3 separate regions of the Homo sapiens genome follow, and regions 2 and 3 are each linked to region 1. The links come from fine-mapping of genetic effects on gene expression. A gene starts in region 1. Each other region holds a variant in brackets. All regions are shown on one strand. Distances are between the middles of the regions. Region 1 holds the start of CSTA (cystatin A). Region 2 has its middle 21 kb from the start of CSTA. Region 3 overlaps PDIA5 (protein disulfide isomerase family A member 5).

What was found.
Region 2: its variant is fine-mapped to the expression of CSTA in whole blood (Lepik 2017, PIP 0.95).
Region 3: its variant is fine-mapped to the expression of CSTA in unexposed skin (GTEx, PIP 0.98).

What each region holds. Positions count from the first base shown.
Region 1 is chr3:122,322,846-122,327,091 of GRCh38, reverse strand. CSTA (cystatin A) reads right to left here and starts at 1,844. Exons shown (of 3, transcript NM_005213.4): 1 at 1,734-1,844. The coding sequence starts at 1,799.
Region 2 is chr3:122,302,573-122,306,818 of GRCh38, reverse strand. No RefSeq gene overlaps it. Among named protein-coding and RNA genes, the nearest start is that of CSTA, 21 kb to the left of the region's middle. The variant G/A (reference allele first, on the strand shown) is at 1,777.
Region 3 is chr3:123,104,464-123,108,709 of GRCh38, reverse strand. PDIA5 (protein disulfide isomerase family A member 5) reads right to left here. Exons shown (of 17, transcript NM_006810.4): 6 at 1,869-1,961. Among named protein-coding and RNA genes, the nearest start is that of PDIA5, 40 kb to the right of the region's middle. The variant T/C (reference allele first, on the strand shown) is at 2,265.

The DNA.
Region 1 (4,246 bases):
TAATTTTTGTATTTTTAGTAGAGATGGGGTTTCACCATGTTGGCCAGGCTGGTCTCGAACTGCTGACCTTGTGATCCACCTGCCTCAGCCTCCCAAAGTGCTGGGATTACAGGCATGAGCCACTGAGCCCAGCCTGCACCCTGACTTTTAAAGCCCCATCTCCCACTGGCCTTGTAGGATGCCATATATCTCTGGTCCTGCCAGCAAGCAAGGCCATGGGTGGCAGCAGCAGCAGCACTTGGGAGTCTGGTAGAAATGCAGAATCTCAGACCTACCCCAGGTCCCCTGAATCAGAATCTAAGGTTTATCAAGACGTGCAGGTGATTCATGTGCACATTCAAGTTTGAGAACATTGATCTGATCTGGGGATTCACATGAAGACATTACTGACTTAATATCATCTCCCAGGAAAAAAGCTCCAAGATATTTATTTAAAAAAAGAACTCTTGAAAGAGAAATAATTAGTCCCCAAGAATGAGTGATGGGATTCTAGGCATCTGGCCCCTTAGAGAGCTTTCTAGTTCCCAGAATATACAGGATCCCAACTCTTATAATCACACAAAAAGCTGATCTTGTTTTCCAAGCTGTCATAGAATGATGTTTCAGAGAGAAAAAATAAGAAGGAATAATATAAGAAAATAAGGCAACAAACTAAAAACCTAAAGTAGTAATTTGTACATGTTTTCCTTTCATAAAATATGCAAATAAATGTTTACTACATAGCTAGATGATAGCTAATCACACAAAGAAAAATATATCAGGGATGGGTGTGGTGGCTCACGCCTGTAATCCCAATACTTTGGGAAGCCTAGGTGAGTGGATGGCTTGAGCCCAGGAATTCAAGACCAGTCTAGCAACAGAATGAAATGCCATCTCTAAAAACAAAACAAAACAAAACCCCCCAAATCAGCCAGGCGTGGTGGCATATGTCTGTAATCCCAGCTACTCAGGAGGCTGAGTGGGGAGGATCGCTTGAACTCAAAAAGTTGAGGCTACAGTGAGCCGTGATCAGACCATTGCACTCCAGCCTGGGTGACAGAGTGAGACCCCATCTCTTAAAAATGAAACAAAACAAAACAAAAAAGAAGAAGTGAAAAACACATCAATCTGCTAACAACATTGAGTTCTATTTTTCCATATATAATTTGGTGCCCTATGACATTTCGGAGTCACTATAGACTGTCACCTCTGTTCTATTAGTTGAATTACCTTTTAACTATGAAAAGACTAAAACACTATCTATTTGGGCAAAAGTGTATGAAGTTTGTAAGTAGATTGCCTTTACAATATTATTCTTCATTCAATCTATTTAAAAAAATTTTCCCTGCAGTGCATTCCAAGACTACTTCATCAAATTGTTAATAACCTTAGACTTCAATTACACGTTGGCTTCACTTGGTGAGATTAGAAAAGTTTCATCAGAAACTGAATTAGTAATTCTAGAATCATATCTTGTAAGAGCTTTAGAGAAGATACAATACAAATTCTTTTACCCATGGAGAAAATGAAGCTCAGAGAAGAAATGTGATTTGCTCAAGGTCACACTCACAGTTTGGGGATTATTTGAGGCTTCATCTGAAAAACTCTTATTTCATCTTAGTTGTAAAGAAACCTGAACAAAGCCACAAACATCCTAAACTTCTGGTTTTCATGTTCAACCACAGCCTTTCCACAGGGACAACTTATGAATCAAGATTTTGGCTCAGACTTTTTCCTGAATGGCATCAACTCACCTTATCAACAATCTCCTGGATTTCTGGAGTGGCGGGTTTGGCCTCAGATAAGCCTCCAGGTATCATTTTGGCTGATTGCTTCTTTGCTGGACAGGATGCTGGAACCAAAGTGAACAGGGAAGTGTGGAGACTCGTGTTTTAAAAGAGGCGTTCACTAGCTCCGCCTATAGAATGCTTTATTTTCCACAAACAGCAAAGAGGCATGGGGAAAATGAGTATGCCGCCAGGCAAGTCTTCTTGCTTCCTGGAGAGAATATGCTACATGGAATTTGGAAGAAAGAGGGGTTGGAGGATGAACAAATGGGCAAGTACAGGAGTCATGTCCTAACAAGCATCAAACGTCCCTGCATTCTCTTTGACAATGGTTCCATCCTGTTGCATCATCTGAATTATGAAATCTGAAGCCGCAACTAGAATTTCCAAATGTTTTAAAACTTCTAACACAAAATTTTATTTTTTTTAAAGCAAAACTTACTAATAATGTCAAGGTTAGTTTAGAATTTACTTGACTTTAGAAAGAAAGCAAAAGGATCTATCTGGAGGACCTTGGCTGGATGTGTCTTCTTTACTCTTATTTAAATATCTGGAAATGTTTAACATACGGTAAAACACAAAGAATAAAATAACAAACATCTATATTTCTATCACTCAGAATTAAAACTTTTAACCCTTTTGTCATATTTGCTTGCTGTTTTTTATTTTTGTAGTTATTTTTAGGAAATAAAATATTACAGATATGGAGGAAGCCCCACACCCCACGCAACCTTGCCTTCCAGAAGGCAAAGTACATGGTGAATTAATATCCTTCCAGGCCATTTTTATATGTGTGTCTTTAAAATTAAAATATGTCTTACTTGGTGTGTCTTTAAAATTTCACTTAAATTGTATGCTAAATATATTCTATGTTATGTTCCTTTTTCTATTCAACATGTTTTTGAGCCTTTCTATGTTGATATACACATAGATCAATCCACAGATAGATCAATCCTGTTCATTTCCTTTAACTGTGATATGCTATTTTATGCTAGACCTATCTATTTAGTCTACCTATCTAATTGCTATATTCTAGTTCATATTTTACATACTCATTTCTCTATTGATGACGATTTTCGTTGTTTCTGGTGTTTCATTCTTACAAACAACGTTGCATTTTTTCTCCTTTTTACATGAGTGAGGGCTTCTGCAGACAACTTATCTAGAAGCAAAATGGCCACATTGTGTGAATATTTATGTATATTATTTTATTCAATTTTGGGAATATATAATACATACACAGGATAAAAATGTTTGGAAGGAACCAGGCTTTACAATATAAGGAATTATTCACTCACTTAATTCCTCAGACACCCTTCTACTCTCCAGAGACAATTATTGGCACCAACTTCTTCTGTATCCTTCAGAGACATTCTTTACACATACAAATATAAAAATAATTGGAGGCTGGGCACGGTGACTCACGCCTGTGATCCCAGCACTTTGGGAAGCCGAGGTGGGTGGATCACAAGGTCAAGAGATTGAGACCATCCTGGCCAACATGGTGAAACCCCATCTCTACTAAAAATACAAAAATTAGCTGGGCGTGGTTGCGTGCGCCTGTAGTCCCAGCTGCTCAGGAGGCTGAGGCAGGACAATCGCTTGAACCTGGGAGGCAGAGGTTGCAGTGAGCCAAGATCGCGCCACTGCACTCCAGCCTGGTGACAGAGCAATACTGTGTCTCAAAAAAAAAAAAAAAAAAAAAATTGGCTACACACACACGCACACACACACATAGATACATATTCATCTATATAGGTTTTCTTTTATAAAAATGGTATCCTACATAAATTATTATACTTTTTGTTTTATTCCTAACAATATATTTTGGAGACTGTTCTATATCACAATACAGGGAGGTGCTTGTTTCTTTATAATGATGTTTGGTGGGTGCTTGGCAAACTCTTGGAGCTAAGTGAGTGTCTTACAGGCTAAACTAAGGGGTGCTACACAAGTATCTCTCCATAGAATGCCTTTACCCTGTGGATTAAGAAGAACAGCGAATGTGGATGACAAGGTGCTCCCTCAAGAGGCCACAGGTCATCTGAAGACTTTGGCTCAGCTTTCATAGGCCACTGGTTCTACTCATCTTCATGTGACCTCCCCAAGTCAAGTCCTTTCATATTAAGGCCCCTGACGTTTTTCCAAGCCTGAAGCCCATTTTTAGTTGTCTGCTGACATCCTAGTCCAGGCCATCCTTATTGAATCTCCCCAGTGGTAAGAGATATGGTAAACCACAAGTCTACCCTTCTCTTTCTAGGGTCTATGCCCTGTACTTTCAGCTTTTTCCTATTGATTCTCAATAATTTATTTTAGAAGTAAAAACTTCCCCAAAGCAAATATTGCTTTTGTGTTTTGTATTCCTCCTATAACAATCCTAGTTCTTCTCAAGAGTAGTATGTGTGCCTCTGATTGACAGGGAAAGAGTCGCACACAAGGAAGTGCAAAAGAGAAAAGCACAATTCATATCTCTGTATTAA
Region 2 (4,246 bases), 20 kb after region 1:
ATAGTATTTCATAATGTGTGAAAACTATGCAAAATTCAAATTTCAGTGTCCACCAATAAAGTTTTGTTGGAACACAGCCATGTATTGTCAATTGCTGCTTTCATGCTACAATGACAGAGTTGAGAAGTTGCAACAAACAACGTATGGCCTGCAAAGTTTTTTCATTTAAAAATGTTCTTTTCAGAGACAGAGTCTCATTCTGTTACCCAGGCTAGAGTGGAGTGGGACAATCATACCTCACTGCAGGCTCCAACTCCTGGACTCAAGCAAGCCTGTCACCTCAGCTTGCTGAGTAGCTGGGATTACAGTGCCAGCCACTGCACCCTGCTGGTCTGCAAGGTTTTACCTGGTACTTTACAGAAAACATTTGCTGACCTCTGAGCTAGCTCACAGTTCAGGCAAAGAAATCGAAGCCCTGAAAGTTTAACTGATTTGTTCAAGCTCAGATGACTACACACAGTGGTAGGTTCTTAATATTATTAATGAAATCTCTTTACAGTCTATGTATTTTTTGGTTATTGCTACTATGTCAGCAGTTTTACTTTCCCTCTGAATCTTTTCTAGCTCCAAAGATATTTCCTAATAGAATTTCCTAGAGAGTACCCACAAATACTTTTGGCAAACACAAGGTATGTTTTGCTTTGCTTCTAATGCACCTTTAAAGGATATTAAGCATTTAGCTGACCTTTCCAACTAAGGCACCTGTAAACTGCTTGAAATGTCTGCATAAATTAGCTTCCAAGTCTGTTAGCATGCTGTTTATTACCGTTTCAGAACTTTACACGCAATTAGGATGTATTGCCACCAAGTGGCCAATGGCACCTCTGTTATGCTTTCTCCACTGGGCTATCACAGAATTATCATAGTTTCACAGGATCTAGTGGTTGGAGGGAATCTTAACTCCAGCCACTTAACAAGGAATTGTTGCTTAAAGAGATCATTATGCTGTCTGGTCAAGTGTTAGAAATAGAAAGAGTTGTTTTTTCAAAGTTAAGCATACATTCTTACTTAGTCACTTTTAAGGCCAGATAGAAAGAAACGCAAACTCACAAATAAGATTTGGTGTTATCCTGAGACTTCAATTGTTATTAATCACTGATAAAACTAACCCTGTTGTCAGGCTATGTAGCAGCTTCCTAACTCAGTTGGTTATTTTCAATTAAGTATCCCTCAGAGGTGTCTTAAAAAAATCTGACATAAAAGCCCTTGCAGCCTGATTATTTCTCTTTTTATTAGAAGAGAAATGGTGCTAACTTTGCTTATAACCTATCAGGACAAGAGCCTGCTCACCTTCACAGCCTTTTTCTTAACCTCATGTAATGGTGTGTTGGTGTCTTTTGCCCATTTTTATATTGAGTTTTGGGGTACTGCCCATCACCTATGACAGATGTTGCAAATATTTTTCTCTCAGTTTGACTTTGCCTTTGGTGCTCTTTTTTGTGATGTGCCAATTTTTTATTTTTACATAGTCAAATTTATCAATAAGTATTTTCTTTTACTGAGTCTGGATTTGGAGTCACAGTTAGAAAGTCTTTCCTCAGGTTAATAATTCACCATTGCTTTCTCCTTGTATTTATATGGTTTAGCTGCTGCTTCTTTTTTTTTTTTTTTTTTTTTTTTGAGACAGAGTCTCGCTCTGTCGCCCAGGCCAGAGTGCAGTGGCATAATCTCGGCTCACTGCAACCTCTGCCTCCTGGGTTCAAGTGATTCTCCGGCCTCAGCCTTCTGAGTAGCTGGGACTACAGGCACGCGCCCCCATGCCCGGCTAATTTTTGT[G/A]TTTTTAGTAGAGATGGGGTTTCAACATATTGGCCAGGCTGGTCTTGAACTCCTGACCTCGTTATCTCCCAAAGTGCTGGGATTACAGGTGTGAGTCACCATGCCTGGCCAGCATCATCTTTTAAGTTTAGATCTCTGATCTATTATGAGGTTATTCTTATTCTTCTTCTTATTTTTTTTTTTTTGAGATAGGGTCTCTCTCTGTCGTCCAGGCTGGAGTGCAGTGGAGCAATGTCGGCTCACTGCAACTTCTGTCTCCTAGGCTCAAGCAATCCTCCCACTTCAGCCTCCTGAATAACTGGGAGTACACATGCGTGCTATCATGCCTGAGTAATTTTTGTATTTTTGTAGAGAGCGGGGGTCTCACTATGTTTCCCAGGATGGTCTGGAACTCCTGAGCTAAAGCGATCAGCCCACCTTGGCCTCCCAAAGTGCTGGGATTACAGGCGTGAGCGACCAAGCCCAGAAGAATTTATTCTTATGTATAGTTTAGAGTGTGGATTCAATTTTATCTTTCTCATAATGGCTATCACGTTGTCTTCCCACCATATATTAAATAGTCATATTTGCCCCAGTGATTTTTTTAGATGCCATATGATTTTTTTTCTACCATATTTTAAATTTACATTTATATTTAGGTTTAATTCTGGACTTTGAATTCATTTACACAGATCTATCTATGTATGTGCCAAAACCAAACTTTCATTATGGAGCTTTTCTTTTTCTTTTTTATTTTATTTTATTTATTTATTTATTTTTGAGACAGAGTCTTGTTCTGTTGCCCAGGCTGGAGTACAATGGCACTCACTGCAACCTCCACCTCCTGGGTTCAAGCAATTCTCCTGCTTCAGCCTCCCAAGTAGCTGGGACTACAGGTGCCCCCCCACCATGCCCGGCTAATTTTTTGTATTTTTAGTAGAGACAGGGTTTCGCCATGTTGGCCAGGCTGGTCTCGAACTCCTGACCTCAGGTGATCCACCCGCCTCAGCCTCTCAAAGTGCTGGGATTACAGGTGTGAGCCCTCACATCTGGCTGGAGATTTTAAAATATATTTTAATGTCTGGTAGTGCTACTTTTCCCTTATAGTTCTTCTTTTTCTTTTTTCTACCCACCTGACGACTGGCCTTATGGTTCTTTTTCAGTTTTTTTTTTTAAAGCTGTTCTTGCACATTTATTTTTTCACATGAACTTTAGTATCAACTTATCTAGTTTCAAAAAATCTTCTTGATATATTTAATTGTGAATCGACTTGGGAAGAACAGACATCTTTTGAATGTGATCCTATTCAAGAACATCTTTCCATTCATTCAAGTCTAGTTTTTGGTATTTTAGGAGTGTTTCAAAATTTTCTTCATACCGATTTTGCACATGTCTTGTTAAATTTATTCCTTAGAATTCATCTTTTTTTTGTTGTTATTGTCAATAGGACTTTCTCCTCTATTTTATTTTCTGATTGGTTACTGTTAGTATTTCTAAAGGCTGTTGATTTCTGTTATGTTAGTTTTACATCCTGCTAACTTTAGAATTTTTTAATTGCTTTGTTAGTTTTACTTTGTTTTTCTAAGATTTTACAAATATTATGTCATCTGTAAATTGCTAGCTTTAGGACTGAGGTGTATATATTTTATTACATTAATAAAAAAATACATTAATTCCTACATTCTTGAGTGCTTTTTTGACAGCATTGCTTCATCAGGTGTAGTGGAATGGTGATTTTTCTAGTCCTGTCATTACTTTTGCTATTTGTGCATGTTGTTATATTTAGTTTTTGACAGTTTTATTGTGGTATATAATTGATGTACAATACACATATTTAAAGCATACAATTTAATTAGTTTTGACATACTTATATAGCTAGATAGGTTATTATATAGTCTGTTACTAAATTCTGTATATTAACTGAATACTTACATAAAGAAGAATTTTCCATCATCAATGATTTGATTACCCTAAAATACAGTTCAAGTAGAGAAAGGAAGGCTAAATGCTTACTTCTTTCTCTTAATTAATCAATGAACAAATAATAACTTATTGCCCTGAAACTTCCAATTGTGAGAATTAAGTTTTTTAAAAATTCTTTTTTTGGGAGGATGGGGTTTAAGAGAGTGGTATTATGAACTAATGAATTTTTATATATTTAAAATGTTTCAGACAACCTACAGAATGGGAGAAAATTTTTGCAAACTATGCATCTGACAAAGGTCTTATATCTAGCATCTATAAGAAACTTAAATCTACGAGAAAAAACAAACAACCTCATTAAAAAGTGAGCAAAGGACATGAGCAGGCACTTTTCAAGAGACATACATGCAGCCAACAAGCATATGAAAAAAAAAGCTCAACATCACTGATCATTAGAGAAATCCAAATCAAAACCACAATGAGATACCATTTCACACCAGTAAGAATGGCTATTATTAAAAAGTCAAAAAATAACAGGTACAGCCACGGTTGTGGAGAAAAAGGAATG
Region 3 (4,246 bases), 780 kb before region 1:
TTCACCATGTTGGCCAGGCTGGTCTCAAACTCCTGACCTTGTGATCCACCCGCCTCGGCCTCCCAAAGTGCTGGGATTACAGGCGTGAGCCAGTGCCGGGCCCACATGCTTTTTAAAAAGACATCTTTAAGGCCGGGCACAGTGGCTCACGCCTGTAATCTCAGTACTTTGGGAGGCCGAGGCGGGTGGATCACTTGAGGTCAGGAGTTCAAGACCAGCCTGACCAACATGGTGAAAACCCATGTCTACTAAAGTACAAAAATTAACCAGGCATGGTGGCACACACCTGTAATCCCAGCTACTCAGGAGGCCAAGGTACGAGAATCGCTTGAACCCCAGAGGCAGAGGCTGCAGTGAGCCAAGATCACGCTACTGCACTCCAGCCTGGGTGACAAAGTAAGACTCTGTCTCAAAAAAAAAAAAAAAAAGACATCTTCAAGATGACAATACTGGCTCTTTGTATCCCAGAGAATGTTGTGCCCAGTCCTTAATTTGAATCACCACTGATCCACTAGGTTGGCTCACAATGATGACATATTTTACCTTCCTCCAGAAGGTTAAAAAAAGGCATCATTTTCTTCTGGGCCAACAAGCATTAAGAGTACAGTCAATAGGCAAGTTACAGAGGCCCATGCCCGTAATCCCAGCACTTTGGGAGGCTGAGGCAGGAGGATTGCTTGAGGATAGATGTTCAAGACCAGCTTGGGCAACAGTGATAGCCCATCACTACAAAAAATATAAAAACTAGCCAGGCATGGTGGCATGTGCCTGTAGTCCCACTTACTTAGGAGGTCGAAGCAGGATTGCTTGAGCCCAGGAATTCAAGGTTACAGTGAGCTATGATCACAACACTGTACTCCTCCAGCCTGGGTGACAGAGCGAGATCCTGTCTCTAAAAACAAAAAAAGTCAACAATTTTAAAGGAAAGGGGAGAGGAGGAAGAGAAAGATGAAAGCTATGTTTTATTTTATTGAGATAGGAATGAACCCTCTCCCTCTACCTACAAAAAGCACTGCTTGCCTCACAGACCATCTGGACTATCACAGAGAAGTTCTTGCCCATCCCAAGTGAAGGCATCATACAAACACGGATGCACATGGCTAAAGATGCACATTCAGGTCAGGTGGGCAGGCTGTGGATGGAGGGGCAATGTGTGTCACAGCTTTTGCATTCTTTATTTTTTTAGAGATGGGGGTCTCACTATGTTGACCAGGCTACCCTTGAACTCCTGGGCTCAAGCGATCCTCCTGCCTCGGCCTCCTGAGTAGCTGGGATCACAGGCACCCGCTACCACAACCGGCCTGTCATAGCTTTTGTTAAATACTTAAGAACTAATAAACACCATAATCTAGATCTACCCTTCTACCTCCACCCCTGGCCAAATTTGGAAATTGAAGCATAAGAAGGTAAATAATTGGTTGAAAGCTATAGAATGACCCAGAATTGTAGAGATCTGCCTCAAGTCTCTGGAAATCTAACCCAAATCTCTAAGGTTATTCTTTAAAAAAACAAAACAAAAACAAAAAAACAAGATGTAAAGCCAATCCTAACAACATCTGGATTACACAATAGAGAGAGAACATTTAAATCTACATTAATGTATGGAAAATCTAAACGTGTTCAAATGCATTAAATAAGGAAGGTGAAGAATGGAGAAAATTCTCAGGCAACCTGTGATCACCGCTGGTTACAACATGGAGCTGGGAAGGGGAGTCAAATATTAGGGTCCTGGCCTAGCTTCCCTAGAGGAAAAGTACAAGTGATCCTGGAATAGTCCCATTTCTCAGTTCGTTGGGCTCCTTTCCTTGGGAGGCCCTGGTACCAGGGAAGCTTCCAGCATCCATCAGAACTGACGGGGAATACATTACCTTTTCACTGTCAAGGTGGACAACATCTTTGGCTCCAGGATCTTCCTCCCACAGTGGGGGCCCTTTTGGATCCTTCAAAAAGGCCACTATGGACTGAGGGAAAAAAAAGAGAAGAGAAAATGCATTTTAGCCCTGAAAAGAGGGAGGTGGGGGAATCAGGAACCTGTCCTCTTTCCCTGCCTGGAGACCTGGGCACACCAGCTGCTGAGCTCAGGACTGCATGTGGCATAAGCTTGGAGGGTGTGTTATTTCCGCTGTCCACTGACATCATGGATAAGTGCCCAAAAATGCACCTCCACCACTCCCATCGGGCTTTTTCAATCACAAGACACCTTGCTCACTCCAGCCAGGTAGTCCATGCCTACTATGCATCTTCAAGGACAAAAAAGAGAAAAT[T/C]TGAGACAATGAGTTGGCTTATTCAAACCAGAGACATACTAGTGCTTCTACTAAATCTCATCTCCTCCAAGAAGTCTTTCTGACTAATGGAATAATGGTCTCAGTCTTGTCCAAAGGAGACATTTCCACATTCCTGCAGCCACTAAAACTGTCATCCCATAAGCAGATCATCATACCTACTTATGACCTGCTTGGTATTTCATGATCTAAACTGGTTTTGGAGTGGATTAAATCCTGATTATCCGCCTCTGTATATGAATGAGTGAGGTCCAGGCTGGGAAGCCCCCAGGGCAGGGTGGGCACCAATGTGGCCTCACCCTTGTTGCTATACTTCTCATGCTGGGGCCCCTCTTCTAGACTGCCTGGATTGAAGATCTGACCAAGTTCTTACAGATAAAGGGCTTCGCTGGCCTTTGTTATGTGTACAATGACTCAAATCTCCACTCCCTGTGGGGAAGATGCACAGGGGCAGGGAAGAGTGGCACTGTCCTTCCACCCTCCTCTGTATCCTCTGCCACTCTCACTGGTCCAGGGCAGAAGCAGCATTCCCTTTCCCTTCAGTCACTCAGAGACGGTGCTCAAAGTCTGAGAGCCAGGATCAGGAACCAGACCCCAGCCAGATTCTGTTACTTCTGTCAACTTTGACCACGCTCCAGCGAGCAGATGCTGAACTGAGAGTGTATGTGTGTGTGTGTGTGTGTGTGTGCGTGTGTGTGGCCTGAGATGAGAAAGGGAAGTGCCCTTCTATAATAGTAAGGGTGTGCATTCAGCCCATCCACTGGTCACACACGGAGAGGACCTTATTATTTCTGGAAACTCTATTTGGAAAGAACTACTACGGGAGAATGGGAGACAGCCAAGACTTCATAGGATTTCATTCAGGTAGTGCTTCCTGCCTGTCCAAGTGGAGCTGTGAAACGCCTCCTGGCAAAAGAACAGCCATTTCTGCCACAGCAAAAGGCGGATCCACCCTTTCTCAGTCCCTTGTCAAGGCTTTGCCATGACAACATAAGGAACTATGGAATTGGCAGGGTCTTCCCGACACCCACACTCACCCACAGCTGCAGAGGCACCTGTCCACCAGGCCATGTGAGAAAGATGCTGGTAGGCACCCACCTGCCTGGGGTTCCAGAAATACCTGGTGCAGGGGTTCTTAATCTAGGGTGCACAAGGGACTTCAGGAGTCGGTGAAGCCCCAGACTCATGTGAAAACATTGACTTTGATTTGTATGCACACACGCTTTCAGGGAGAAGGTCTGGAGTTCAGTAGGTGCTCAGTGGGATCAGGACTCCAGAACAAGTTAGGAACTGCTTGCTCTGGGGGGTGTCCTGGCCCCACGCCCAGCCCTCCTCCCCCTTCTCCACCTCAGCATCAAGAAAAAAAGATAGCAGTGGATGGAAAAAGGAGATAAATGGCCTTTTAACGTAACAACTGACATGTTCGTACACACAACCTTGTTTTTCAGGTGAGGATTATTCTCACTTAACTGAAGCTGAATAACCCCACCCATAGGTTCTCTCCAAGTTGATCTAACTGGACAAGACCTCAGGGCAAAAGTCTGCAGGGAGCAGCACCTGGAAGCCCACCCTCAACTGTCCTATTCTGGGTGCTCTGAGTCCCAGGCACTGTCTGACACCACATCTGGCCTTCATAGCTGTAATCCTGGCTCACAGCTACTGGGCCCTGAGGTCATCAGTGAGTCATCTGAATCCAGACTGCCAGGCACCTCTGGCCCTTACCACTTCTATAGTAAGGATTTGGGGAGTATGTGCTAACAAGGAAAGGGCAGCTTAAAGGGGACATTCCCCACTTCGAGTTTCCTATTCTTTGCCAGTGGGGAGATAAGTTCTCACTTAACTGGCCTATGACCTCTCTAGGTGCCGTGGCACAGCGTCTGTGACCAGGCTTCTGCCCAACCATGCGGGTTGACAAAAACCACAGCCAGAACATGGGCCTGCAGGTGATGGGCCCCTCCTGTCGG